Linked DNA regions of Homo sapiens: regions 1, 3, 4, 5, 6 and 7 are each linked to region 2. Evidence: fine-mapped expression QTL. A gene starts in region 2. Each other region holds a variant in brackets. All regions are shown on one strand. Distances are from middle to middle.

The links. PIP is the estimated chance that this variant, and not a neighbour inherited with it, causes the effect. A credible set is the group of variants that fine-mapping cannot tell apart.
Region 1: its variant is the best candidate, but not a certain one, in a credible set for the expression of CYP2D6 in whole blood (TOPMed, PIP 0.66).
Region 3: its variant is the best candidate, but not a certain one, in a credible set for the expression of CYP2D6 in whole blood (INTERVAL, PIP 0.53).
Region 4: its variant is the best candidate, but not a certain one, in a credible set for the expression of CYP2D6 in whole blood (INTERVAL, PIP 0.69).
Region 5: its variant is the best candidate, but not a certain one, in a credible set for the expression of CYP2D6 in cultured neurons (Aygun 2021, PIP 0.77).
Region 6: its variant is the best candidate, but not a certain one, in a credible set for the expression of CYP2D6 in whole blood (INTERVAL, PIP 0.57).
Region 7: its variant is the best candidate, but not a certain one, in a credible set for the expression of CYP2D6 in pancreas (GTEx, PIP 0.69).

Annotation. Positions count from the first base shown.
Region 1 is chr22:42,235,227-42,239,318 of GRCh38, forward strand. All of the region lies in intron 1 of TCF20 (transcription factor 20), which reads right to left. Among named protein-coding and RNA genes, the nearest start is that of TCF20, 33 kb to the right of the region's middle. The variant C/T (reference allele first, on the strand shown) is at 1,534.
Region 2 is chr22:42,128,413-42,132,496 of GRCh38, forward strand. It overlaps CYP2D6 (cytochrome P450 family 2 subfamily D member 6 (gene/pseudogene)), which reads right to left and starts at 2,398. Exons shown (of 9, transcript NM_000106.6): 1 at 2,200-2,398; 2 at 1,326-1,497; 3 at 621-773; 4 at 372-532. The coding sequence starts at 2,379. RefSeq lists promoters at 2,404-2,870, 2,457-3,989 and a cis regulatory region at 3,683-3,694.
Region 3 is chr22:41,629,951-41,633,950 of GRCh38, forward strand. The region is part of intron 3 of XRCC6 (X-ray repair cross complementing 6); the gene reads left to right. Among named protein-coding and RNA genes, the nearest start is that of XRCC6, 11 kb to the left of the region's middle. RefSeq lists an enhancer at 455-1,108. The variant T/C (reference allele first, on the strand shown) is at 1,809.
Region 4 is chr22:41,559,831-41,563,922 of GRCh38, forward strand. It overlaps CSDC2 (cold shock domain containing C2), which reads left to right and starts at 1,180. Exons shown (of 4, transcript NM_014460.4): 1 at 1,180-1,353. LOC105373044 (a long non-coding RNA gene) reads right to left here and starts at 1,053. Exons shown (of 2, transcript NR_134631.1): 1 at 890-1,053. The variant G/A (reference allele first, on the strand shown) is at 1,676.
Region 5 is chr22:42,176,695-42,180,786 of GRCh38, forward strand. It overlaps TCF20 (transcription factor 20), which reads right to left. Exons shown (of 6, transcript NM_001378418.1): 3 at 2,915-3,008. Among named protein-coding and RNA genes, the nearest start is that of CYP2D6, 48 kb to the left of the region's middle. The variant C/T (reference allele first, on the strand shown) is at 1,855.
Region 6 is chr22:42,273,760-42,277,851 of GRCh38, forward strand. It overlaps a transcript of TCF20 not described here and the pseudogene OGFRP1. Among named protein-coding and RNA genes, the nearest start is that of TCF20, 5.2 kb to the left of the region's middle. RefSeq lists enhancers at 1,107-1,903, 1,904-2,700. The variant T/C (reference allele first, on the strand shown) is at 1,802.
Region 7 is chr22:42,080,573-42,084,572 of GRCh38, forward strand. It overlaps SMDT1 (single-pass membrane protein with aspartate rich tail 1), which reads left to right. Exons shown (of 3, transcript NM_033318.5): 2 at 1,353-1,493; 3 at 2,547-3,712. The coding sequence ends at 1,490. Among named protein-coding and RNA genes, the nearest start is that of SMDT1, 2.9 kb to the left of the region's middle. The variant C/T (reference allele first, on the strand shown) is at 2,142.

The DNA of each region.
Region 1 (4,092 bases), 110 kb after region 2:
TGCCATGTATAAATGTAACAGACACTGAGACAAAAGAAAACTACTCCTGACAGCAGTTTGCTGTCTTTCCCAAGAGATTTGAGGAACAGTAACCATAAAACTTTCCTCCTCCCTTCTCAACTGGGGACTTCTCTGATGTAATATCAGGGAGAAGAACAAGGGAACATTGGGTATCAACTGGTGCACACCATCTCTCTCCTGAAGTGACAGAAAGAACATTGAGTAGTACTATCTTACCTAGAGTCAAACTAAATGACTTGAACAAAGAGACCAAGAAAAACATGTTTAGAAAATCATCTAGAAATAGGATTTTATTTTAGTAAGCGAAGTGAACAAAAAATACAATTTTATTTGTACATACAATTGCTTCCACTATTAAATTTGTTTTCTATTGATTCTTCTGGGTCATCTGTTGGAAAAAGTACTACATTTAGAATTAAGAAATCTAAATACTTCCTAGTCTTGCCACTTGTTCTGTGACTTGGGCAAGTTATTTAACCCATATGTCTCACATTCTTCACCTGCAAAAGTGGAGTTAACCTACCTTGCCACCACACGGGAATGTCCCACAGTAAGTCTGCAAACAGCTAAGTACCATATAAATCAAAATTATCACTGTTAGAATTACCACCCTCTTTCCCTCTCTCAGGTAAAAACTTGAACCAATAATAAAATAAGTAAAAGACACCAGACATGGTGGCTCACGCCTATAATCCCAGCACTTTGGGAGGCCGAGGCAGGCAGATCACTTGAGGTCAGGAGTTCAAGATCAGCCTGGCCAACATGGTGAAACCCTGTCTCTACCAAAAATACAAAAATTAGCTGGGCATGGTGGCAGGCACCTGTAATCCGAGAATCACTTGCTTGTACACCCAGGAAGCAGAGGTTGCAGTGAGCCGAGATCTCACCACTGCACACTCCAGCCTGGGTGACAGTGAGATTCCACTTCAAAAAAACAAACAAAAACAAAAACAAAAAAACAAGTAAAAGACAACAAGGAAAAAAATGGAAAAGAGGTTATCAAACAAACAAAATAAACCCTAAAAAACACAATAAATAACTACTGATTGGTGTAACAGCACTCTGTGACAGGTAATTTTTGTCATTCTCGAGTTAGGAAAGATCCCACACCCTGGGATCTACAGTCCATTCATAGAAATCACAGCAGGGTTAAATCCTCATCAATCCTCTAATTCACAATGAAGAATGCCGACGGAGCGCATTCTTAATCTATATGGCAAGAACTACAAGCCACAGGACCAATCCCCACCCTCCCCACAGAGGGACAGTGGCCTGACAGTTGGAGCTCTACTTGGAGGCAGATGGCCTCTAAAGTGCAAGAGTTTTCCCTTCTTCCCTGACCACTGGCATGCAATTAGCAAACACCCTAACCCCAGTCATTCTGAAATAAGCCAATGGAGAGTCACCTGCAATCCTAAATTTTGAAAATAAAAAAGTCAAAGAGACACAAACATTCTATGAAAAATCAGCCACAAGCATAACATTGCAGGTATTGTGGGTCTGGTTCCAGAC[C/T]GTGGCAATAAAGCGAGTCACACAAATTTTCTGGTTTTCCAGCACATATTAACTTTTATATGTGTACGCTATACTTCAGTCTACTAAGTGTGAAATGGTATTATGTCTAAAAGACAATGTTCATACCTTAATTTAAAAAATACTTTATCGTTAAAAAATGCTAACAATCATCTGAGCCTTCAGGGAGTCCTAATCTTTTTGCTGACGGAGGGTCTTGCCTCCATGTTGATGGCTGCTGACTAATTAGGGTGGTGGTTGCTGAAGGCTGAGGTGGCTGTGGCAAATTTCTTCAAATAACACACCCATGAAGTCTGACGCATCGACTGGCTCTTCCTTTTCTAAGAGATTTTTCTATAGCATGCCAAACTGTTTGATAGCATTTTACCCACAGTGGAACTTCTTTCAAAACTGCAGTCAGTTCTCTTCAACCCCGCCACTGCTTAATCAACTACGTTTATGTAATATTCTAAATCTTTCATTGGCATTTCAACAATGTTCACAGCATCTTCATCAGGAGTAGATTCCATCTCAATAAATCACTTTCTTTGCTCATCCATAAGCAGCAACTCCTCATCTGTTCAAGTTTTATCATGAGATTACAGCAATCCAGTCACATCTCCAGGCTCCACTTTTAATTCGAGTTCTCTTGCTATTTCTACCACATCTGCAGTTCCTGCCTCCACTGAAGTCCTGAACCCCTCAAAGTCATCCATGAGGGCTGGAATCATCTTCCAAACTCCTGTTCATGTACTGACCTCCTCCCATGAATCACAAATGTTCTTAATGGCATTTAGAATGGTAAATCCTTTCCGAAAGGTTTTCAATTCACTCTGCCCAGACCCACTAGAGGAATTATTATGTATAGCAGCTAGAGCCTTATGAAACATATTTCTTAAATAAGACTTGAAAATCAAAATGATTCCTTGATCCAGGGGCTGCAGAATAGATGTTGTGTTAGCAAGCATGAAAACAACATTTATCTCCTTATACATTTCCATCAGAGCTCTTAGGTGACCAGGTATACTGTCAAGAAGTAATATTCTGAAAGAAATCTTTTGAGTAGTAGGTCTCAACAGTGGCCTTAAAATATTCATTAAACCATTCTGTAAACAGATGTGCTGTCATCTAGGTTTTGTTGATCCACTGACAGAGCACAGGCAGAGTAGATTTAGCATAAATTTATGGGCCCTAGAATTATTAGAATGGTAAATGAGCACTGGCATCAACCTAAATTCACCAGCTACACCAGCTCCTAATAACAGTCAGCCTGTCTTTTGAAGCCAGGCACTGACTTCTCCTAATTATGGAAGTCCTAGATGGCATCTTTTCTGACATAAGGCTACACTGAATATCTGTTCAATATAGCCACCTTCATCAGTGATCTTGGCTACATCTTCTAGATAACTTGCTGCAGCTTCTACATTAGCACTTGCTTCAACTTGCATTTTAATGTTACAGAGATGGTTTCAAGAACTTTAGGAACCAATCTGTGCTAGCTTCAAACTTCACTTCTGCAGCTTCTTACTTTTTTCAGCCTTCACAGAAGTGAAAAGAGAAAGTCTTGCTCTGGGATTAGGCTCTGGCTTAAGGGAATGTTGCGGCTGGTTGATTTTCCATCTGAGTCACTAAAACTTTTCCATATCAGCAATAAGCTGTTTCGTTTTCTTCTCATTCATGTGTTCACTGGAGTTGTACTTTTAACTTTCTTCAAGAACCTTTTCTTGCATTCATAACTTGGCCACGTTTGGTGCAATAGGCCTAGTATTCAGCCTATCTTGGCTTTTGACATGCCTTCCTCACTAAACCATCATTTCTAGCTTCTGATTTAAAAGTGAGAGATGTGCAATTCTTCCTGTCACTTGAACATTTAATGGTCATGATCAGGTTATTAACTGACCTAACTTCAATACTGTTGTGTCTGAGGTAACAGAGAGACCTGAGGAGGTGGTGAGATGGGGGGACACCCAGTTGGCAGCAGTCTGAACACACATCTATACACAACATGTATATATTAAGTTCGCCGTCTTATATGGGAGTGCTTTGTGGCGCTCCAAAACAATTACAAAAGTAACATCAGGCCGGGCGCGGTGGCTCACGCCTGTAATCCCAGCACTTTGGGAGGCCGAGGTGGGTGGATCATGAGGTCAGGAGATTGAGACCAACCTGGCTAACACGGTGAAACCCTGTCTCTACTAAAAATACAAAAAAATTAGCCAGGTGTGATGGCGGGCACCTGTAGTCCCAGCTACTCGGGAGGCTGACGCAGGAGAATGGCGTGAACGCGGCAGGCAGAGCTTGCAGTGAGCCGAAATCGCACCACTGCACTCCAGCCTGGGCGACAGAGCGAGACTCCATCTCAAAAAAGAAAAAAAAAAGTAACATCGATGATCACTGATCACAGATCTTCATGACAGATAACAATTTTAAAAGTTTAAGGCTGGGCGCGGTGGCTCATGCCTGTAATCCCAGCACTTTGGGAGGCCGAAGCGGGTGGATCATCTGAGAACAGGAGTTCGAGACCAGCCTAGCCAATACGGAGAAACCCCGTCTCTACTAAAA
Region 2 (4,084 bases):
AGGCCCCAGCCATCTCCAGGTAGACCCAGGGCCTGCCTGTCCTTACCACTGACCTCACCAAGTCCCTCCCCAAGTGCCAGCCTCCACCCTCTCTCCTTGCCCAGAGGAGAAACCTAAAATCGAAATCTCTGACGTGGATAGGAGGTACAGAGTCCTTGGCCTCTCCTGGTGCCCCCTGACCCGGGCACACCTCTCCCACGACCATGTCTGAGATGTCCCCTCCTCCTCCAGGCCCTTCTTACAGTGGGGTCTCCTGGAATGTCCTTTCCCAAACCCATCTATGCAAATCCTGCTCTTCCGAGGCCCCAGTCCAGCCCCGGCACCTCTCGGGAGCTCGCCCTGCAGAGACTCCTCGGTCTCTCGCTCCGCACCTCGCGCAGAAAGCCCGACTCCTCCTTCAGTCCCTCCTGAGCTAGGTCCAGCAGCCTGAGGAAGCGAGGGTCGTCGTACTCGAAGCGGCGCCCGCAGGTGAGGGAGGCGATCACGTTGCTCACGGCTTTGTCCAAGAGACCGTTGGGGCGAAAGGGGCGTCCTGGGGGTGGGAGATGCGGGTAAGGGGTCGCCTTCCCCGTCCCCCGCCTTCCCAGTTCCCGCTTTGTGCCCTTCTGCCCATCACCCACCGGAGTGGTTGGCGAAGGCGGCACAAAGGCAGGCGGCCTCCTCGGTCACCCACTGCTCCAGCGACTTCTTGCCCAGGCCCAAGTTGCGCAAGGTGGACACGGAGAAGCGCCTCTGCTCGCGCCACGCGGGCCCATAGCGCGCCAGGAACACCCCTGGGGGTGGGACGGGCACGTGCGCGTGGCCATGAAGGCATTAGCCCCACCATCCACCACCCACTCCAACCCTATGCTCCCCCTGGTCTCCCGCAGTCCCTGGCTCTGTCCAGCTGGTCACAGGGCCCACTCTTTGTGCATCCACCTTGCTCCCTTGGCTGGGGCAGGGCTTTGCCCCACCTCGTCTCTGCCCACCCTGACCGCCTTTGCACTCAGGGAAGACCCCGCGGGCCCCGCGCCACCCACACTGAGCTTACAGCACAGGTGCGGTCCCCGCCCCCCACTTCGACACCGGATTCCAGCTGGGAAATGCGCCAGCCTCACCCATTGGGCTCCTGCCAGGTCTCGGCAGTGGCCCCGCCCACTCGTCACAAGCCCCGCCCTCGTCCCCATGCTCACACCTCCCTAGTGCAGGTGGTTTCTTGGCCCGCTGTCCCCACTCGCTGGCCTGTTTCATGTCCACGACCCCGCGCCCTCTCTGCCCAGCTCGGACTACGGTCATCACCCACCCGGGTCCCACGGAAATCTGTCTCTGTCCCCACCGCTGCTTGCCTTGGGAACGCGGCCCGAAACCCAGGATCTGGGTGATGGGCACAGGCGGGCGGTCGGCGGTGTCCTCGCCGTGGGTCACCAGCGCCTCGCGCACGGCCGCCAGCCCATTGAGCACGACCACCGGCGTCCAGGCCAGCTGCAGGCTGAACACGTCCCCGAAGCGGCGCCGCAACTGCAGAGGGAGGGTCAGGGCCTCTTGTCAAGCCAGGATCACCCCAGACTACAGGTCCTAGTCCTATTTGAACCTTGGACGACCCCCGGGGCTACCAGGAGTGAGCAGGTGGAAGGAGGAGACCCAGCCTCCTGATCGTGGGGCGGGGGTGGGGGTCACACCTTCTGTGATGGAGGAACTCAGTTTGGATGCGTCACCCAGGTATGACCTTGCAAGAGTCACCAAAATTGCCGAGAGGCCCCAGTTAGCATCCCATTCCCAGATGATGGTCCATGCCGGTGAGCAGTGAGGCCCGAGGACCCACAGTGCAAAAGGTTTGAACCGGGTCACTGCACCCCCTTCATCCTCGATTTCGTGATTTAAACGGCACTCAGGACTAACTCATCTTCCATTCCCAAGGCCTTTCCTTCTGGTGTCAGCAGAAGGGACTTTGTACTCCATAACATATGTTGCCCAATGGGCTTGCATGCCCACTGCCAAGTCCAGCTCCACCTCCAGGCCCTTGCCCTACTCTTCCTTGGCCTTTGGAAAATCCAGTCCTTCATGCCATGTATAAATGCCCTTCTCCAGGACGTCCCCCAAACCTGCTTCCCCTTCTCAGCCTGGCTTCTGGTCCAGCCTGTGGTTTCACCCACCATCCATGTTTGCTTCTGGTAGGGGAGCCTCAGCACCTCTGCCGCCCTCCAGGACCTCCTCCCTCACCTGGTCGAAGCAGTATGGTGTGTTCTGGAAGTCCACATGCAGCAGGTTGCCCAGCCCGGGCAGTGGCAGGGGGCCTGGTGGGTAGCGTGCAGCCCAGCGTTGGCGCCGGTGCATCAGGTCCACCAGGAGCAGGAAGATGGCCACTATCACGGCCAGGGGCACCAGTGCTTCTAGCCCCATACCTGCCTCACTACCAAATGGGCTCCTCTGGACACACCTGGCACCCCCACCCCACCAGGCACAGAGGACCAGGCAGGACACTCTCAGCACACCGAGCGCGTGACCCTTCCCTTATAAAGGGAGCTGATGATGGCCTTTGCCCTCTGCTGTGAGTGAACCTGCTGTGTTGACTGTGCTGCCAGTGGCAGAGTCAGGCCAGGGCGGGTATGGGCTGCTCCAGAGGTTCTTGCCCCTGCTTCCTGCTCCAGGCCCTTACCCAGGGTAGGCCGGTGGAGGGGCCTGGTCGGAGAAGTCACCCCCTCTCCCCACTCCAAGCTCCTGAAGCCTGCAAAGCCTTCTGGGATAACCAGGGTTTCAGTGGACCCGGCCATCCACCTCCCAGCTAGGCTCATACACCCTAATGTAGTCACAACCCCTCCTCCAGAACATGGCCTTGCCCTTTCCCTACCCCCACCTGCCCACTCCAGAGTGACCTTCAGCACCCTTATCTGTCACTGGCACTTACCTGGGGCCTTAGAGCTCCTGATGATGAGTGGCATCATGGGCCTGGTCCCTTCACTTCACCTTGCACTCTTGACATGCACAGACGCTATGCACACACCTGATGGTGCACAGATCTCTTGTCCACTCCCAGACACTTGTCCACTTGTTCACACTTGCAGGGACACGATTACACACGCAGAAAATCACCCACACAAAGACAATATTCACACATACACAGACTCACACTGACACTTAGGGCACACATTCTCTCTCACACACACCAGTCACACACACATACAGACCCGGCACCAAGTACCCCACTTCCCAGCCATGCCGGAGGTTTCCTGGATGGGACCACTCCTGTCCAGAGGCTGCTCCCAGCCCAGCCCACATTCCTGGGCTCTGGCCGGGCTATGGCTTCTTGTTTGCAACAGGGCTGTTCCCAGAGCTCCCAGTTGGTAGCCGGAAGGCCCTTGCCCCAGCCTGTGACAACATCCTCCCGGGCTGCCTGAGGGTCGTCCTCCTCCACTGCTTTCTGGCCTCCATGTTTCTGATTAGAAATCTGGTGGGAACGTTATGGAGGATCCTTTGTTCAGGATATGTTGCTTTATTTTTTTTTTCTTTAGACAGGGTCTCACTCTGTTGCCCAGGCCGGAGTGCAGTGGCAGGATCATGGCTCACTGCAGTCTCGACATCAAGTGGACCCCCTGCCTCCCAAGTAGCTGGGACTACAGGCACCACCCAGCCTAATTCTTTTTTTTTTTTTTTTTTTTTTGGAGACGGAGATTTCCTCTTGTTGCCCAGGCTGGTGGCTCCCCTCCATTGTGCAATGATGCAATCTCGGCTCACTACAACCTTCACCTCTAGGCTTCAAGCAATTCTCCTGCCTCAGCCTCCTAAGTAGCTGGGATTACAGGTGTGTGCCACCACGTCTAGCTTTTTGTATTTTCAGTAGAGATAGGGTTTCACCATGTTGGCCAGGCTAGTCTTGAACTCCTGACTTCAGGTGATCCACCCACCTCAGGCTCCCAAAGTGCTGGGATTATAGGCATGAGCCACCGCACCCAATCCCAGCTAATTTTGTATTTTTTGTAGAGACCGGGTTCTTCCAAGTTGTCCAGGCTGGTCTTGAATTCCTGGGGTGAAGCGATCCTCCCACCTGGGCCTCCCAAAGTGCTGGGATTACAGGCCTGAGCCACTGTGACTACCTGATACGTCTCTT
Region 3 (4,000 bases), 500 kb before region 2:
CCACTGCGCCCAGCCTTGTGTGTGCATTTATGCTTTTTTTTTTTTTTTTTTTGAGTTGGAGTCTCGCTCTGTCACCAGGCTGGAGTGCAGTGGCACAATCTTGGCTCACTACAACCTCTGACTCCCTGGTTCAAGCGATTCTCCTGCCTCAGCCTCCCGAGTAGGTGAGATTACAGGCACGTGTCACCATGCCCAGCTAATTTTTGTATTTTTAGTAGAGATGGGGTTTCACCATATTGGCCAGGATGGTCTTGGACCCCTGACCTCGTGATCTGCTCGCCTCGGCCTTCCAAAGTGCTGGGATTGCAGGCGTGAGCCATGGCACCCGGCCTTGCTTTTTTTTTTTGAGATGGTGTCTCACTATTGCTCAGGCTGGTTTGGAACTCCTGGGCTCAAGCAATCCACCCACCTCAGCCTCCTGTGTGGCTGGGGTTAAGGCATGTGCCACTATGCCTGGCACATTGTGAATGTATTAAATACCTCTTAATTGTTCACTTAGAAAATCTAAATTTCAGCTTAATTAAAAAGATTAGTGTTTCTTTTTTTTTTTTTTTAATTTATTTTTTTTATTGATCATTCTTGGGTGTTTCTCACAGAGGGGGATTTGGCAGGGTCATAGGACAATAGTGGAGGGAAGGTCAGCAGATAAACAAGTGAACAAAGGTCTCTGGTTTTCCTAGGCAGAGGACCCTGAGGCCTTCCGCAGTGTTTGTGTCCCTGGGTACTTGAGATTAGGGAGTGGTGATGACTCTTAACGAGCATGCTGCCTTCAATCCATTTAACCCTGAGTGGACACAGCACATGTTTCAGAGAGCACAGGGTTGTGGGGTAAGGTCACAGATCAACAGGATCCCAAGGCAGAAGAATTTTTCTTAGTACAGAACAAAATGAAAAGTCTCCCATGTCTACTTTTTTCCACACAGACACGGCAACCATCCGATTTCTCAATCTTTTCCCCACCTTTCCCCGCTTTCTATTCCACAAAACCACCATTGTCATCATGGCCCGTTCTCAATGAGCTGTTGGGCACACCTCCCAGACGGGGTGGTGGCTGGGCAGAGGGGCTCCTCACTTCCCAGTAGGGGCGGCCGGGCAGAGGCGCCCCTCACCTCCCGGACAGGGCTGCTGGCCGGGTGGGGGGATGACCCCCCCACCTCCCTCCTGGACGGGGCGGCTGGCAGGGCGGGGGGCTGACCCCCCCACCTCCCTCCCGGACGGGGCGGCTGGCCAGGCAGAGGGGCTCCTCACTTCCCAGTAGGGGCGGCTGGGCAGAGGCGCCCCTCACCTCCCGGATGGGGCGGCTGGCCTGGCTGGGGCTGACCCCCCACCTCCCTCCCGGACGGGTCGGCTGCTGGGCGGAGAGGCTCCTCACTTCCCAGATGGGGTGGCTGCCGGGCGGAGGGGCTCCTCACTTCTCAGACGGGGCGGCTCCCGGACAGAGGGGCTCCTCACTTCTCCGACGGGGCGGTTGCCGGGTGGAGGGTCTCCTCCCTTCTCAGATGGGGCGGCTGGGCAGAGACGCTCCTCACCTCCCAGACGGGGTCACGGCTGGGCAGAGGCGCTCCTCACATCCCAGACGGGGCGGCGGGGCAAAGGCGCTCCCCACATCTCAGACGATGGGCGGCCGGGCAGAGACGCTCCTCACTTCCTAGATGGGATGGCGGCTGGGCAGAGACGCTCCTCACTTTCCAGACTGGGCAGCCAGGCAGAGGGGCTCCTCACATCCCAGACGATGGGCGGCCAGGCAGAGACACTCCTCACTTCCCAGACGGGGTGGCGGCCGGGCAGAGGCTGCACTCTGGGCACTT[T/C]GGGAGGCCAAGGCAGGCGGCTGGGAGGTGGAGGTTGTAGCAAGCCGAGATCACACCACTGTACTCCAGCCTGGGCACCATTGAGCACTGAGTGAACCAGACACCGTCTGCAATCCCGGCACCTCCGGAGGCCGAGGCTGGCGGATCACTCGCGGTTAGGAGCTGGAGACCAGCCTGGCCAACACAGCGAAACCCCGTCTCCACCAAAAAAATACGAAAACCAGTCAGGCGTGGCGGCACGCGCCTGCAATCGCAGGTGCTCGGCAGGCTGAGGCAGGAGAATCAGGCAGGGAGGTTGCAGTGAGCCGAGATGGCAGCAGTACAGTCCAGCTTCGGCTCGGCATCAGAGGGAGACCGTGGAAAGAGAGGGAGAGGGAGACCGTGGGGAGAGGGAGACCGTGGGGAGAGGGATAGGGAGAGGGAGAGGGAGAGGGATTACTGTTTCTTTTGTGTACTTCGTAGAGAAGAATTTTCACAGATTTATTATATATCTCATGTCTCATAATTTTAGAATTTGGAACTGAACAGAAACTTTTCATGTTCTAATTTGTGTACAAATAGTTCTTGGTAGGCAGGGTGTGGTGGCTCACGCCTGTAATCCCAGCACTTTGGGAGGCTGAGGTGAGTGAATCACTTGAGGTCAGGAGTTCGAGACCAGCCTGGCCAACATGGTGAAATTCTGTCTCTACTCAAAATACAAAAATTAGCCGGGCATGGTAGTGCAGGCCTGTAGTTGCAGCTATTCAGGAGGCTGAGGCAGGAGAATTGCTTGAACTGGGGAGGTGGACGTTGCAGTGAGCCAGGATCACGCCACTGCACTCCATCCTGGGTGACAGAGAGAGACTCCATCTCAAGAAAACAAGAAATAGTTCTTGTAGTTGGCACACCAGAATATCTTGCACCAAAAAAAAAGAATAAGCTGGGTGTGGTGGTGTGCACTTGTAGTCCCAGCTACTCAGGAGGCCGGGGTGAGAGGATTGCTTGAGCCCAGGAGTTTGAGGCTGCACTGAGCTATGATTGTGCCAGTGAACTCTAGCCTGGGCAACAGAGTAAGACCCTGTCTCTTGGAAAAAAAAAAAAAAAGAAAAGGCTGGGCGCGGTGGCTCATGCCTGTAATCCCAGCACTTTGGGAGGCCGAGGTGGGCGGATCACGAGGTCAAGAGATCAAAACCATCCTGGCCAAAATGGTGAAACCTCGTCTCTACTAAAAATACAAAAATTAGCTGGGTGTGGTGGCGTGCGCCTGTAGTCTCAGCTACTCCAGAGGCTGAGGCAGGAGAATCGCTTGCACCTGGGAGGCAGAGGTTGCAGTGAGCCGAGATGGCACTATTGCAGTCCAGCCTGGGCAATAGAGCCAGACTCTGTCTCAAAAAAAAAAAGTGTATGTAAAATAAAATAATAGAACTATGAATAAAAACAATCGTTAATTTAAAGTGGTTCTCAAACAGAATTACTTGCAGGACATTAAAACACAGACTACAGAACCTTGCCCCACAATCAAAATTTCTGATTCTCTATGTCTAGAATGGGGACCAAGAATTTGCATTTCTAGTAAATTGTCAGGTGATGCTGATGTTACTGATTTGGAGACCATTACTTTGAAGAGCAGTGCTTTAACCTTTTTTAGACCGTGGACCTATTTTTTTTTTTTTTTGAGACGGAGTCTCGCTTTGCTGCCCTGGCTCTTGGCTCACTGCAAGCTCTGCCTCCTGGGTTCACACCATTCTCCTGCCTCAGCCTCCTGAGTAGCTGGGACTACAGGCACCCACCACCACACCCGGCTAATTTTTTGTTCTTGTTTTTTAGTAGAGATGGGGTTTCACCATGTTAGCCAGGATGGTCTCCATCTCCTGACCTCGTGATCTGCCCACTTCGGCCTCCCAAAGTGCTGGGATTACAGGCATGAGCCACCGCACCTGGCCAACCGTGGACCTCTTTGAGGATATGATGACAGCTACATACCTTCCCCTCAAAAAAGATAGTACTCACAATTCTACCTGTAATTTCAGAGAGTTAATGGAACCCTTGATGCCTAAAGACCTCAGAAGAAAATGTAGTGTTAGGTAGGAAGGAAATGAGACATTCATAGATGAGCACAATTTGATAACCGATAATAAGTATTCAGTAGTTGATAAGCAATAGAAAACATTTTCTAAAATTCTGTTTTAGTTTTTGTTTTTAATTTTTAGAAC
Region 4 (4,092 bases), 570 kb before region 2:
TCTCTAGCCAGTTGGAAGAATATAGGCAAGTCAAGTCCTTCCTCCTCCCTGAGCCTCTAATTCCTCACCGGTAAAGTAGGGATGATAAAAATAAATTATTAAATTGTTGTGAGGTTTCAATGAGGGCAAAGCTTGCTGCCTGAAACAGAGCAAGCTCTTGTGGCGTCTTAGCTATTTGTATTAGTTACTTGTATTTTTCTCTGCGGTTTCCCTTTTAACTCCCACCTCCTTTTTATTTTAAAAAGACTCCTTTTGAAAATGCCAGCCTGCCTCAGTAGTACCAGGAGACACCAGGGAAAGGCTTCCTTCTTTCCAAGCTGAGGCTGAGAAGGAATGGGAAGAACGAAGAGAAGCACCTTTGTGGAGGCCTCCTCCAGCTGGCCCTGGGTTTAGGAACATCACACACTCAACCTCCAAAGGCCCTCAGGGGCTGGCCCAAGGTCACACAGCTTGACAGTGCGGAGCACTTCGAAGCCAGGGCGTGTGGTGTAGAACAGGCTGGGTGCCTGAATTCAATCAGCCCTCTCTACTTCTCTACTCAGAGCCTCCCAGGCTGTGGGGTGTTCACCTGTGCACCTTCAAGCCGATCACTTCCTTGGGGTCCTCGTCAATTCAATTCCATGGAAATATTACAAGGGGTAGACAGAGATGAGCCGTGTCAGTGTCTGTACTAGCAGAGGGCAGGACCACTGAGCGTCCGGAGGGGAGACGAGTGTCTGGGTGTCCCTGGGAACCTGGCTTGTCTCGACCCCTCTGGGGGGCTCCTCTTGGCTCTGACCTCCATTCTCCCAGACTCACCCCCACTCATGCCCACCCACCCCGAGGGGCCCCCCAGTGTGCACTCACACACTCACACTCAAACTCACCACCCCACTTGCTCTCTAATTACCAGGAACGTGGCGCTGTCTCAGGTTCTTCCTCCCCTGCATTCCTCAGCAGCTGCCCTCACTGGGCAGGGCAAATTATACCGTGGCCCGACCATAAAAGCCACTTTCCAAAAAAAGAAGCTTTAAGGCCCCCGAGAGACGCAGCTGAGCCTCTCACCTGGCAGTGCCTGACTCAGGAGGTGATGTCTGGGCCATGAGCCACAGAGCCTGGTGTCCCTTTAAGCAGGGAGTACAAATTCTCATCCCTCCCTCCTGCTCTCCCTGACGTCAGCTGGAAGGCGTGTGAGTGAGTGAGGGGCTGAGGTACCGCCCGCGCGAGCACACACAGACACACACACACACACACACACACACACACACACACATCTTCCAGACCCATCCCCTGCCTGCCAGCTCCACGAGCCAGAGAGAGACAGAGCGCGGACGCCGCAGGAGGCAGTGCCTGGACCCCAGCTGCCCAGGAGAGGTGAGGGGCTAGATGGGGCCTGAGGACACTGTGCCAGAAACTGTGGCTTTGGCCAGGCCGAAGGAGAGAGGTACAACGTGAAGGTGGGGGCTGGATCAGCCCAGTTCAGCTTACAGATAGGGTGTTGGGGGTATAGAGGATACCACCTGTCTCTCCCTCCCTCATTCTCTCCCCGTGACCCCCAAATGAGGTGAGGCCGTGTGGCTCCCGTGGGAGCATGTCTGTGTCTGTGTCTGTGTCTGTGTCTGGGACCTGCGTCTGGCTCAGGAGGCAGAGAGCAGCAGATACCTGCCAAGCCGCAGCCTCCTGTCTGGGAAGCAGC[G/A]GGAGAGAGGACCGCCTTGACCAGAGAAACCCCAGTGCCGCTTCCAGTTGCTGAAAGCAGAGTGCAGCAGGGACCCTTGCTGGTCCTTCCCCTGGAATGTTGGGCTGGGAAGGGACCGGCTGGGAAAGGCAGACAGTTGGACCTGGAGCAGCTGTCTTATCCTGACTCTATTTTTTCCCCAGTGTGATGGGGATAATTGTGTTAGTTGGCTTAGAGAGGTGGCTCCGTGTGGTTATTCTCTTCCCCCAGGTACCACCCCACCCCGAGCCCTTGCTTCTTGCCTGCCTGCTGGTCTGCTCTGACCTCCACCCTTGCCAGGGCACAGCCCCCGGAGGGCAGGGGTGATAAGTCAGGGCCTGCCAGGCCTCTATCTTGGGATACAGGGACTTAGGGTGGCCTTGGCTGGTGCCAAGCCCATGAATGGCCTGACCCTGGCACAAGGAGTCCAGGCGGAGATAAGGGGCGACGCTGGCACCCACAAGGAGACAGCAGGTTCCTGCCAAGCTGCCAGCCTGCAGGCTCTTCCCAGGGAGAGGGGAGGGGGACACAGAGCGAGAACAATAATAAATACAGAGTGTGAACTGCTGCATCCACTGGGGCTGGGGTAGGAGAGGAGGAAGTATGCCCAGTGGGGGGTGGGCAACCTCTCTGAGAGCCTGGCATCATGCTGCCTGGCTGTGATCCGGCAGGGGCCTCTCCCTGGGAAAGGGGGTCTCCAGCTTTCTGGGGGATGGGGAACTGGTTTCCCAAACCTGACTCCATCCCAGAGTCCTCTGGACCCTCCAAATTCTGAATGTTTCCTCCTCCCAGCTTTGCCCTGCCGCCCCCCATTTCCTTGAAGTCTTCTCCAAAAATGTCTGTTTTCTGTGTCTGCCCATCTTGACCCATCCTCACCCCCTTCAAAAAAAAAAAAAAAGACAGGTATAGACAGGAACTGCCTGCCCGTGTCCTGGGAAAGGCCAGAGGACAGTTTTGGCCACAGATGGCTCTCCCAGGCTTGGAGAGACATGGCTAGGCAATGTTCACGGATGCGCAGGGGGATTCCCTGAGGGGGACTTGGGGACACTCTCAGATGGCTGGTGGGGAGGGGACACCTGCCAGCCAGTCTGGAGTAGAGCCCCCTAGGGGGTAGAGGGCGCTCAGGACCTGGCTGAGCCAGTCATGTCCACGGTCACAACTGGGGCAGCCAGGACCCAGAGCCTTGTAGGAATGGGGCTTGGGGCAGTTCAGACCTTTGTCCATGCTGAGCAGCAAAATGGGAGGCTAAAAGTAGTAGGGAGCTCTTCTGCCCCACAGCCAGCAAAATGACACTCCTGGGCTGGGGGGCTGGCATGGCACACCAGAAAGCTGTGGGGTCACACTGATTGGAGTTCAAGTTCAGATGCTGTATGTATGTATGACTTTGACCAGTCTATTCCTCTCTCTAGGGGGTCTCAAAATGGGAAAGTGACTTGCCTAGGGTCGCACAGCCAAGCACAGGTGGGACTGGGGTGCGTATTTGGCTCTCCCAGTGCCGTCCTGGTTTCCCCACCACCACCCAAGCCACAGAAGCCCAAAGGCCTTAACCACAGCAGTTCCCCAGGGCAGCCTGGGCATGTGACAAGGAGGACTACAGGGTCTCTTAAATAATTAAGCTCAAGTATTGGCTGGGGCAGCCCTCATGCACAGACGCAGGCACACAGGCTGTGTGGGGGAAGGACCAGGTTTAATCAGGTCACCTCAGGCTGCAAGAGCAGTTCAGGCACTGATGTATTTTAAGGAGCATCTGGGAGGCTGGGGGAGGGGGAGGAGCCAGGGAAGTGTCAGCTCCTGCCCGGGGGTCCTGAGTTTGTTTTCTCACTCTCCCAGGGCCCACCATGCACAAGCTCCCGATGTTCGGGAAGCCCTTCCAGCGTCATCCTTGTGTTCCCCGTCCTTTCTATTTTTAAACCACCGTACCCATTCCTCCCATCTGCTCCCCTGTGATGGGGGCTTGGGGCTGGGACATTTTTATTGGGGGAGTTGTTTTTAAGCTTAGCAGAGTTGGTGAGTGACTCACCCAAGGTCATGGTCTGAGTCAGCGCAAAGCCAGAAATAAAAGCCCCAGTCCTGGCTCCCCAGGAATTCCACACCCGACTCCTCCTTCTCCAGGGGAGGGTGGGCGCCACCCTCAAGGAATGGCTGGTCTTCACCTCCCCAGACATCTCCAGAGGGCAGATATGCTGCACCTGACCTGCTGTGAGAGCTCAGCGAGGCTCTTCACCTCTCTGAGCCTCAGTTTACTCTTTAGAAGATGGGTGTACTAAGCCAGGCGCAGTGGCTCATGCCTGTAATCCCAGCACTTTGGGAGGCTGAGGCGGGCGGATCACGAGGTCGGGAGATCGAGACCATCCTGGCTAACACGGTGAAACCCCGTCTCTACTAAAAATACAAAAAAA
Region 5 (4,092 bases), 48 kb after region 2:
AATGCTCAAGTAACTAGAGGACATTATGTCAAGTGAAATAAGCCAGGCACGGAAAGTTAAAAGCTGCATGTTCTCGCTCATGTGGAAATTTAAAAAGCTGATCTTACGGAAGTATTAAAAAGTAGAACAGAGGATACTAGAGGCCAGGAAGGGGAAAGGAAAGGAAGAGATAAGTAGAGATTTGTTAAAGAATACAAAATTACATCTAGATGGGAGAAATAAGTTCTAGTATTCTGTATCACTGTAGGATAACCACAGTTAACAACATTATATTGTATAGTTTCAAATGACTAGAAGATACCAAATGTTCCCAACACAGACATGTTGTTTGAGACGATGGATTTGCTAATTACCTAGGTCTGATCATTTTATATATATATTGAAACATTACTGAGCACCCCATATCTACAATTACTGTCCATTAAAAAAAGTAAAAAACGCTGGGCGCGGTGGCTCACGTCTGTAATCCCAGCACTTTGGGAGGCTGAGGTGGGTGGATCACCTGAGGTCGGGAGTTTGAAACCAGCCTGGCCAACATGGCAAAACCCCGTCTCTACTAAAAATACAAAAATTAGCCGGGCATGGTGGTGGGCGCCTGTAGTCCCAGCTACTCGGGAGGCTGTGGCAGGAGAATCACTTGAATCTGGGAGGCAGAGGTTGCAGTGGGCTGAGATCATGCCATTGTACTTTAGCCTGGGCGATAAGAGCGAAACTTCGTCTCAAAAAGAAAAGTAAAAAACTTAATAAACTTGAAATTAACACCCACCTTGCCGCCAAAAAAGTAACTGGGGAAAACACCCACTGAAGGGACTAAAAGTCTAGAGTAAGAAAGGTGATTTTCCCAGGTTATCGAAGCTCTGAGTCAAAACTCAAGTCTTCTGCGTCACTCATTGGATGGCACTTCTTTAACAAAATGTTTCCCTTCTTTCAACAGTTAACACACTGCAAAACATCCCCCTATCATCTCAGCAAAGAAAATACAACACTCTATTGTATGTATACAACGTACTGTGATTTAGAGTAAGAAATACATATTTTAGTCTTCATCCCTGATTCCTGGCACAGACCTCCTAAAACCCGTGTAAATTCCTGAGCAATTAGGGGTGCTAGGAGCATCTTTTCTTCTAATATTTGGTTTTTGATCCTGGTTCCTGACATGGAGCTCCTAAACCCTTGGAATTTCCTGGATAGGAGCACTTTTTGTTCTAAGGCTACTCTTGGTGGTTCCTGGATGGGGGCTGGGCACCAGAGAGACGAAGCTGTGATTAGCAGCTTGGAACTGTTAGCTCTACCCACCCCACTCCAGGAAGGACAGAGGGGGTGAAGATTGAGTTAATAATTGATTATGCCTACATGATGAAGCCTCCAAAAAATCCGTGAACTACTGGATTCAGAGGGCTTCTGGACTGCTGAGTAGATGAAGGTGCCTCAGGGGTGGTGCCCCTGGAGAGAGCATGGACGCTCCATGCCCCTGCCCACACATCTGGCCCTATGTTTCTTTCATGTGGCTGTTCATCTGCATCCTTTATAATGGGTAAACACAAGTGAAGTGTTTCCGTGAATTCTGTGAGCCATGTTAAACATTAATCAAACCCAAGGAAGCGGTCTTGGGAACCCCAGTTTATAGTTGATCACTCAGAAACACAGGTCATAACACAGGGCTTGAGATTGGTATATGAAGTGGGGAGCGGTCTTGTGGGACTGAGCCCTTAACCTGTAGGGGCTGCACTAACTCTGCTTAGTATCAGAACCAAGCTAAACTATAGGACACCCAGTTGGTGTCCAATGGTGAATTACCTGTGTGATGCTATCAAGAAAAGAAAGTAAAAAGACAACTCAGAGAATGGAAGAAAA[C/T]ATTTGCAAACCACATATCCAGAATTACAAATAATTCTTTTTTTTTTTTTTTTTTTTTTTGAGACAGAGTCTCACTCTGTTGCCCAGGCTGGAGTGCAGTGGCGTGATCTCGCAACCTCTGCCTCCCGGGTTCAAGTGATTCTCCTGCCTCAGACTCCCGAGTAGCTGGGACTATAGGTGCGCGTCACATCTGGCTAATTTTTGTAGTTTTAGTAGAGACGGGGTTTCACTATTTTAGCCAGGCTGGTCTTGAACTCCTGACCCCATGATCCACCCGCCCGGCCTACAAATAATTCTTAAAACTTGACATTAAAAAGATAAACAACCCAATTTTACAATGGGCAAAGGATGTGAATAGCTATTTCTCCAAAGAAGATGTACAAATGGCCAATAGGCACAAGAAAAAAATGCTCGACATTAGCCATCAGGGAAATACAAATAAAAACCACAATGAAATAACATTTCATACCCACTGGGCTGGCTACAATTAAAAAAAAAAAAAAAAAGAAACACATATGACAGCAAGTGTCAGGGAGGACCTGGGGAAAGGAGAACACTCATGCACTGCCACTGAGAACGTAAAATGGGGCAGCCATTTTGGAAAACAGTCTGACAGTTCCTTAAAAGGTTAAACAGAGTTACCATATGATCCAGCAATTCTACTCCCAGGTACACATCCAAGAGAACTGAAAACATGTTCACACAAATGCTTGCATGTGAATGTTCTATAGCAGCATTATTCATAACAGTCAAAAAGTGGAAGTAACCCAAATGTACAGCAAAGCCCACAGAGATAGAAAGGATTGAGTCCAACAGAGCTTAAAGGGAAAAAAAAATCATAAAAATTTAAAAAAGAAAACAGAATAGTGGTTGCCAGGGACTGGAGGGAAGGGAAGGGAGATGAGTGCTGCTAATGGGTGGGAAGTTTTTTTATGAAGTGACAAAAAAAAAAAAAAAAAAAAAGAAAAGAAAAGAAAAAAAACAACGACAACAGAGAGAATCAAACTGTATGTCCTAATCCTTTGGATGCTCTGGACAAGGGTCTGTGGTCTCCTCTTACCTGCATCAATGGCACACGGGTAATGGTATCGGAAGGAGCAGCCTTTGTTGTAGCAGCCCAAGGTGGCGCCTGCCTCCTGGCAGTGGGAACATTTCTGAAAGGAAGGGAAAAGTCAGGCATGTCAGTATCCCAGATTTGGCCCTCTCCTCCAGGCCTTCCCTGGTCCCCATCTGTTAGACCTCAGCACGTGTCTCTGTGGTTAGAGGAGTCCGTGGTGGCAGGATGAGCTGGTCAATTTCTAAATGCCATTCACTGACCACACCATGGGAAGGGATCCAGCAATAATGTTTTAGACCAAGCCTCACAAATGTTCTCAAATCAACAATACAGCAGGGTGAGATGAGCAATCCATGTCATAAAGGACATGCCAGAGTGGGGTCCCCAGCCCTGCCTCTGGTACCCCCGCCATCCACCCACCCACACACTATGCCAGGCATTTCCTTGCTGCTATCGTGAGCGGCCTGCAGATCTTCCCTGTTTACTTCTGCTGTGAAAATCTGGGGTAAGAGAGGGTAAGGTAGTAGAGTTATATATAAACCTTTTAGAATTAGAAGTGGAATTTGGTTTCTAGTTCTTGTATTTGTAAGAAGATTTTATTTTTATTTTTGATCTACTTACCCCAAATGCCCAATACATTTCCCTTTTCAGAAAATATGGGCTCCTGTGTGCAAATGGTATTTTTATACATGAATCTTATTTTAAATGCACCAGAAAACCTGCCATGAATTTCTGGCTAAGTGAGACATTATTTTGTAATTGAGACACTCCTCCTTATATGGTCAGGTTTTCTTAAAGTGGGGCACATCTCTGTCAGCCCTGTGATGTGGCTGCTGTGAGTGCTCATCCTGTCAGGTAAGAAATGTGTCCTATCAGCAACAAACACATTCATAAAACTCAACCACATGTGACCCTACTAAGGATGCTGGCTCTTCAGATAGCAGAGGCACACAACCAGCAAGACTAGCTGGAAGAGACAGAAACTTGTTCCTGCTTCTATGAAAAATAAAAGTGTTCCCTAAGCAATTACACTGAGCTGGCTCAGGCCCCCGACACAGATACTGATGGAAAACTACACTAACGCCAGCAACAGCAAAGCCCAAGCGCTCGCCACGCTCAGACTGAATGATCTCATCCAGCCCTCTGCACTATTCCACCTGGCAGGCACTCCTAATGCTTCA
Region 6 (4,092 bases), 150 kb after region 2:
AATCCTTTCCCTCCTCCTCTGGCTCAAAGACGGCTTTTGGAAACACTGTATCACTCCTTTTATTACAAACTCCTCTGCCCTCCTCCAGGCGCCTGGGCCACTCCAGGATTACAAATGGAGCCTTCTGCCTCTAGGTCACTGATTCTACTACCATCTGTCAGCGTGGATTGATTGAGGAGACTGGCCCTGCTCGGCAGATCAGTGACTTGTGCGAAGTGAGCCAGGGTGTCGGTGCCTTCAGAGCAGGCGGATGTCCTTCCTCACTTGCCAGCTCTCGTGAGCAGACACACAGCCCTCACCTTTATCCTTCACCAAGCTCCAGCTCTCCTTCCTCTTGGGAGGCGCCGCCTGCTAACTCAGTCACACCAAGAGGGAGGCCTGGAATTCCTGCTCACAAGCTCGGGGCTTCATCTGCAGTCTGCCAGGAGGCAACTTACAAAAGCCTCTGGCTAACAGAGCGGGAAACTCCCCACAGCCTCCTGCTGTGCCTGTCCCCAAGCCACGCACTGTCCCCTTGCAAAGCACAAGGATACTGAGAGTGCACAAACAGCAGGGGTGGAGAGCCTCTGTGGGCACGCCCTCATTCTGTGCCCTCATTCCACAGGAGCCCCTGCTTTGTGCAAGTCTCTGAGCCCGCATGGAGGGAGCATGGGGGCTCAGAACAGTTCTTTCTGGGGCAAGGTCAGGGGAGGCTCTAAAGTTATGGTGGTGGGGAGGGCCTTAAAACAGAGGACCAGAGAATACCAAGACTTAGGGGTGTGGGGGAGAGCCACCTGCTGTGCCCAGGAGGACTGTGCCCAGTGCAGGGGAAAAAGATGAAGCTGCGGAGTTGGGCAAGGGTGGGATCCTGCAGGGCCTTAGAGCATTGACATGTTTGGCATGGATTTGTTTCACAGGGTCCCACAGAAACTTCTGCTCTCCAGGTTTGCCCCTCCACTCTGCCCTCCAGGATAGAAGTGTGGCATCCTAATCTGGGATGCATCCATCTCTCCCCCTGGACTGTGAGCATATGCAGGGCAGAGACACCTCTGCTTCTCTTGGGTCTCCGGCATCCTGTGCAGGGTAGGGCACCATGTCCATTAAAATGATGTTAATGAGGATGATACAGCCCAGAGGAATCCAGGCTTACTATGAACCAGGCACTATGCAGATTTCCCTTTATCATCCCAGTTCTTCTTATTTGCAGCAGTCTAATGAGTTTGGTACTGTTATCACCCCTATTTTACAGATGGGGCCACTGAGGTGCAAAGAGTTTAACTTATCCCAAGTCACACAGTTTGGAAGAGGCTGAGCTGGTATTTGAACCCAGGTTTTCAGAGGCTGCACTCTTAACCACCAAGCTTCCCAGCACTCAGCAAACACTGGAAAGACAGAGATGGACCTAGACAGTCAGTAGGACCAAAAGTCTGCAGGCCGATAGGGAAAGAATGTAAGAGGACGGCATGGGCAGCGCCAGCCCCTCCAGCAGTCATATATTAAGCCCTGGACACTGGGCAGCTCGGGCAGGTCGGGGGGCCTCAGACTCTCGGACCCCATGCCTGGAAGACCACGGTCTGCCCAACAAGCAGCAGCTGCTGTGAATCGACTTACACATCTTCCCCACAGGTGAGCAGAGAGCTAACACCTGAGGATAGGCCAAGAAACGGGAAGCCCGTGCAACCTGAGCGCACAGATCACCCCCACCTGCCCGGCACTCACTGTCCCCAGTGGCTGGACTCTCATCGGGCCAGTCACTGAGCTGGCGCCAGCCTGGTCTCACCAGTGTGTGTCTTTAAATCATCCAATTTCTTCAGCTGTAAAT[T/C]GGGCTGGGAGGGGCCAGGTGAGCTGCCTGCCTCAGGGGAGTCGGCGCCCTTACCTGAGTGATCCCATTCACTCCTCACAACAAACCCATGAGGCAGGGATTGTCATCTTCATTGTACAGAGCAGGAAATGGGTGCACACAGAGGTTAAGAGACTTGCCCAGGTCACACAGCTAGGAAGAGGCTGTGATTTGAACTCAGTCTTCTGGCTCCAAAGCCCCCACAGAGTCACTCAGGGCACTACAAAGAGTTAACCTGAATATGAAATGATCTAAGAGTCGCAGTGACAAAGGCATGCTCTAAGCGCTTTTCCTGCAGTAACTTGCTTAATCCTTACAACAACCCTATAAAGTGGGTACTGTTCTCGCCTCATTTTGCAGATGAGGAAACTGAGGCACAGAGCAGCTCGGAGGGGGCAGAGCTGAATCTGACAGGCTACAGGGCCCCTGCGTTGCTTTGTTATAAGATGACAATAAGGAAGTTCCTTTCCTTTGGGATTATTTCTGCCTGAAAGCTCAAGACTTTTAGCCACATCATTGTCTGGGCTCCACGGGAAGGCAGTGCCACATGCTGAGGCATGCTGGGAAAAGACTTTGTTCCATCCTGTTTTGTTGACATGCTCTTCATTTTTAAGCCTGAAACCGAAGCTTCCTGCTAAGAATTCAAACCATGGAGAAAAACGCAGCCATGATAACGGCCACTACTTCCTGAGCCTCCAGTGTTCCCTGTGCTTGGGGATCCATATATGTCACTTAACCTTAACCTTCACAACACCAGGGCAGCCTCCATTTTCACAAGTGAAGAAATGGAGGCCCAGAGTCACTTAGAAGATGCTCGAAGGTGCACAGCTGCTAAGTGGTGGTGCTGGGATTTGTCCTCAGGTCCTCAAGAGTCCTGACTCTTATGTGCTGGCTCCCCACGGAGGCGTGGAGTCTTGTTTGCTGGGCATTTGACAGAAATGTTTCTGCTCATCTTCTGCCACAGGTTGGTCCTTCAGCGTCAAGATTCCTGGGCCACTTATTAATAGAAGGCACCAGGACACAGGTGCAGGGATGCAGAGCTGGATGCTGCCTTCTCAATAGGAGAAGCCAAGAAACGCAGATGCCGATGCTTAATCAACTCCGTCTCTCCCTCTAGTGACTCGGGGATAGCTGCCCTGATGCCAAGGCGATTGTCTTCTGGAAGCAGCCACGCCGTGTGAGGTTCCTCATCACTGCCCTGCATCTCCCTGCGAGCTCTCGGGGATAATTGCAAAATCACGTTTGATTCCAGGGGAGCAGAAAGCAGCAGGAGCCGTGAATTCTCCAACTCTTAACTGGTCCTCGACTGGAGCCACTTTTCCCTGCCCACCCATCCCTGTGGCGGATTCATTACAGTTATCCAAAGCCGGTTTTAACTTTGCTCCCCCTGGCTCAGAAGTCTGTCAGTGGGTCCTGAGCGGCTTCACCATTCAAGTTTATTCCTATCAGCCTGGAATACAATGCTCTATCTGGCTCCGCTTGCTTCTCCAAACCTTCTCTCCCAGGTCTCATTCTGCCTCTCTGTCTAACTAGACAAGTTGGCTTCCTGTCCTGTGCCTGTCTGCTCCCTGCAGCAGGAATGCCGTTCCCTCTTCCCTACAGATTGAAATTATATCCTCTTTCAAGTCTTACTCAAATGCCACCTCCTCCACAAACTCTTAACACTTATTCATTCATTCAACAAACATTGACTGAGCCCTTATGACAAGCATTGATCCCAAGGGTCCCTGTGGTCATGAAGTTTATGGTGCCATGGAGCTGTTAGAAAAAGAATCATCACATAAATAATCATCTGATAACAGCCATGATACAAATTAGTAAGAAAGTGTGGCAGGAGCACAGCAGATGTACAATAGGGACCCTGAGCCTTGGGGATCTAGGACATTTGAGCTGAGGCCTGAAAGACAAGTAGGAAGTAACCACATGGTGAAGTTGGAGGAGAGCTCCAGGCAGAGGGCACGGCATGGGCAAAGGCCCTGCGGTAGGAGGGAACAAGTAGATTTCCAGGAAGGGCACAGGGGCCTGCAGGGTAATGTAAGTGAAATGAGAAAGCTGGAGATGCAGCTGGAGCAGGACAGTACAGGCCACAGAGGCTTTGCGACTTTATCCCTGGGCAAAAAGAGGAGATGATGAAGGATTCTGAGCACAGGACACAAGCCAGTATGTATTTAGACGCGATCCTGCCCTGTGGCTGAGCCTCTTCTGAGAAGTGCAGGCCCTGTGTCACGTCACCCTGAACCTCAGTCATCAGGGTTTTGGATGTGAGTTTCCAT
Region 7 (4,000 bases), 48 kb before region 2:
TTGAGTTTTTCTAGGGAAAACGGAAACAGTCCCTTATATCAAGCGAAAGTTTGCTTTACGACTGCAGGGCTGTGTGGTGTGGGAGTTAAAAAAACAAATTCTCTTAAAGCTAGTCTAGCCTATGCTAACTCACACAATTGACTGTAGGTCCATGTTGGGAAAGACCTGCCTTATCAAAACAGTTGAAAAAAAAATTTTTTTAATTCTAGGAATACGAGAGAAATGTTGCTGAGATTTTACTGACATTCTCCCAATCCATCTAAAGTCTTTGAGTGTAAATACATGCCCACTTTCAAATACATCTGTTTCTAAAATTTTTAAATCAAATTTCTCAGGCATCAGGGAACCTGTTACTTAGTGAACTGTGTAGAATATCCCTTCACTGTACATCTTTCTGTCATCGGTTTTCGTGTATTTCGTGTTCAGGCAGAGCTCACCGTAGTCTGGCCCTCCTAGTACTGGTGCACCCGATTGCCTGTAGGGATTTAAAGTAATTAGCAGGCTGTGTCCTAACTTTAGATGTCTAGGGTGCCTTAGACTTTTCTTTCCAGTGGACTTTTCGTCCATTTTGATGGCCATAACAGTCACCTTATCTCCTTTTTTTTTTTTTTGAGACGGAGTCTCACTCTGTCACCCAGGCTGGAGTACAGTGGCACAATCTTGGCTCACTGCAGCCTCCGCCTCCCGGGTTCAAGTGATTCTTCTGCCTCAGCCTTCTGAGTAGCTGGGACTACAGGCATGTACCACCACACCCGGCTAATTTTTTGTATTTTTAGTAGAGACGGGGTTTCACTATGTTAGCCAGGCTGATTTCGAACTTCTGACCTCGTGATCCGCCCGCCTCAGCCTCCCAAAGTGCTGGGATTACAGGTGTGAGCCACTGCGCCCGGCCTTTTGTCTTTTTTTTAGACAGAGCCTCACTCTGTCTCCCAGGCTGGAGTGGAATGGTGCAATCTTGGCTCACTGCAACTTCTGCCTCCTGGATTCAAGCAATTATCCTGCCTCAGCCTCCCGAGTAGCTGGGATTACAGGTGCGCACCACCATGCTGGGTCAATTTTTTGTATTTTTAGTAGAGACGGGATTTCACCATGTTGGCCAGGCTGGTCTCAAGCTCCTGACCTCAGGTGGTCCACCCACCTCAGCCTCCCAAAGTGCTGGGATTAAAGGTGTGAGCCACCCTGCCTGGCCTTCTCCTTTTCTAATTACTTTTCTTGCCCTGAATTTTTCCAAGGACTTTAAAATCAAGTTGCTTATGATGGGTCTGAGGGTATGTCTGTGAGAGGGCCAGGTCTTCTTTGGTCCTGCCAGAGTGGGCTCTGGAGCTCACAGCTGCCACTCTGACCCTCTGCAGATGTCCTTCGGCCTTCTCCGTGTGTTCTCCATTGTGATCCCCTTTCTCTATGTCGGGACACTCATTAGCAAGAACTTTGCTGCTCTACTTGAGGAACATGACATTTTTGTTCCAGAGGATGATGATGATGATGACTAACAGGTAAGACTTGCTTTACCCTAGATGGAGCAGGAAGCAGGGTGGAGCATCTGTCTGTGATGCAGTCTGGCCTGGTAGCAGCATTTGGACACTGGGGGCAGAAGCATTAATGAATTGGCCCACTTGGTGGCTAATGTTTTCGTTTGTTTGTTTTTTGAGACGGAGTTTCGCTCTTGTTGCCCAGGCTGGAGTGCAATGGCATGATCTCGACTCACTGCAACCTCTGCCTTCCAGGTTCAAGCGATTCTCCTGCCTCAGCCTACCGGGTAGCTGGGATTACAGACATGCGCCACTGTGCCTGGCTAATTTTGTATTTTTAGTAGAGACGGGGTTTCTCCATGTTAGCCAGGCTAGTCTCAAACTCCCGACCTCAGGTGATCCACCCACCTTGGCCTCCCAAAGTGCTGTGATTACAGGCGTGAGCCACTGCGCCCAGCCAACTTCATGTGCTCTAATATGTGCTGCATGGCATTCTGTCAAGAGATGAGGACACTCCTGTTCCTTAGCCTGGCATTCAAGGCTTGCCATAATCTGGTCACACCTCTTATTCCAGTCTCATCTTCCATATTTCCAGCCACACACCGATTCCCAGTATTCACCATTTCTTGAGTTTTCACACTCATACCCACCCCCAAACATTGGCTCATTGTT[C/T]CTCCCACATGGAAGGCTCCTTCCCAGAGCTCTGGGTCTTAATTCCACCCATTCTACAGTGTCTTTGAAGTCTTCGTTCCTCCTTTCATTTGAAAGTTGACGGCTCCTTCCTCTAAGCAACCAGTACCTCTCTTCAAATACTCGGTATTATGTGGCTAAACACACACAAAGCAAAATTTTACTAGACTCTGAGCTTCTTGCTGGCAGGGGACGTTTTTTATACATTGCGGCCCCCAGTGCCTGGCCTGTGGTGAATGCCCAGTTAACGTGCGCATGAACAACCAAACGTGCTCAAAGCTGCCTTTCTCCTGCCATGTTTGATAGAAGCACTTTGTGGAATTCTTTCAGTCTGCGGATGGAAGACTACGCTGTTGCCCAGTTCACTGCTGCTTTCCTTTCTTACAGGAATTACAGAAAGGAGAAAGCACTAACTGAAGAAATGGTGATGCTCTCAGTTTCTCTGCCTTCCCTATCAGCAGAAAGGCTCGGGGAAGGCCCTCAGCCTCCCAGTCTGGTGAAGCTTCCTGTATGGTCCATGACCGTATTCCACCCCAGGCTCTGGGAGGCTCCCTGAGATGTGCTGTCCACTAAGCACTGCACAAACAAGCAATCAAATTATGAATAAACATAATAAATATCAGCCGTGCGTGACTGAGTGATGGCTGCAGTTTCTCAGTATCCCTAGGTTCTAGTTGGTGCAGTTGTCTCTGCTGTCCTTTATTTATGGGAGAAACATAGGCCCAGGCTATCCAGGCTGCAGTGGAGCCTGGTGAACTATTCTGGGGGCCCTGGGAACTATTTTCATTGTTTACAAAAGCCCAACAGAAACTGTGCATTTTCCCTTAAGAAAGCTTCATGGGCTAACTAAAGCCTCATGCCATTCTGTGTTCAGTGCCAGTCATGACAGCTCTGCTTGTTAGCATACTACTTAAATATAACTAGAATGATTCAAAACTCGGGTTCTGTGATATGAGGATATAGATAGGTTTTCATCTATTTCCTGGCTTATAACTCCCAAAACCCTTGTTTTAGGCTTTTGTTATAATGTTGGGCACTTCGGGCCTCAGAAAACAGCAGGCTGTTTCTCAGATCTTCTCCTGACCTCCTTTCACCTGCTGCTTTTTCTCCCCAAGGCAGGCCATAGAAACTAAAAGTATAATCTTCCTTTGCCCGTCTTCCAGTTGGCCATAAAAAGAATCCTCTGACCTACCTTGTCTGATTTTAGGTCATGAGACCCCCATTTCAGAAGGGATTCTGCCCCATACCTGAGAGGAAGAAATGTAGACAGGCCTTGTTGGACTTCCCCACTCCATCTGTATTAGATTATGCCTCTTTTGTCCAATCCCATTTCTCCAGTGTTGTCCATGCTTCAATCATCCCTATCCAATGAGGTCTCCATAAAAGGCCCAAGAAGACAGGTTTAGAGAGCTTTCGGAGAACAGAACACTTGGCTTTGCAAAGTGGCACGCCTGGAGAGAACTTGGAAGCTCCACGCCCCTTCTATACCTCACCCTATGCATCTCTTCAGCTGTATCTTTTGTGATATCCTTTATAATAAACCAGTAAACGGACCTAAGTGTTCCTCTGAGTTCTGCAAGCTGCTCCAGCAAATTAAAAAGAAGGGGTCAGCCAGGTGCGGTGGCTCACACCTGTAACCCCAGCACTTTGGGAGGCCAAGGCGGGCAGATCACAAGGTCAGGAGAGCGAGACCATCCTGGCTAACACAGTGAAACTCTGTCTCTATTAAAAAATAGAAGAAATTAGCCGGGTGTGGTGGCGGGCACCTGTAGTCCCAGCTACTCGGGAGGCTGAGGCAGGAGAAGAATGGCGTGAACCCGCGAGGCAGAGCTTGCAGTGAG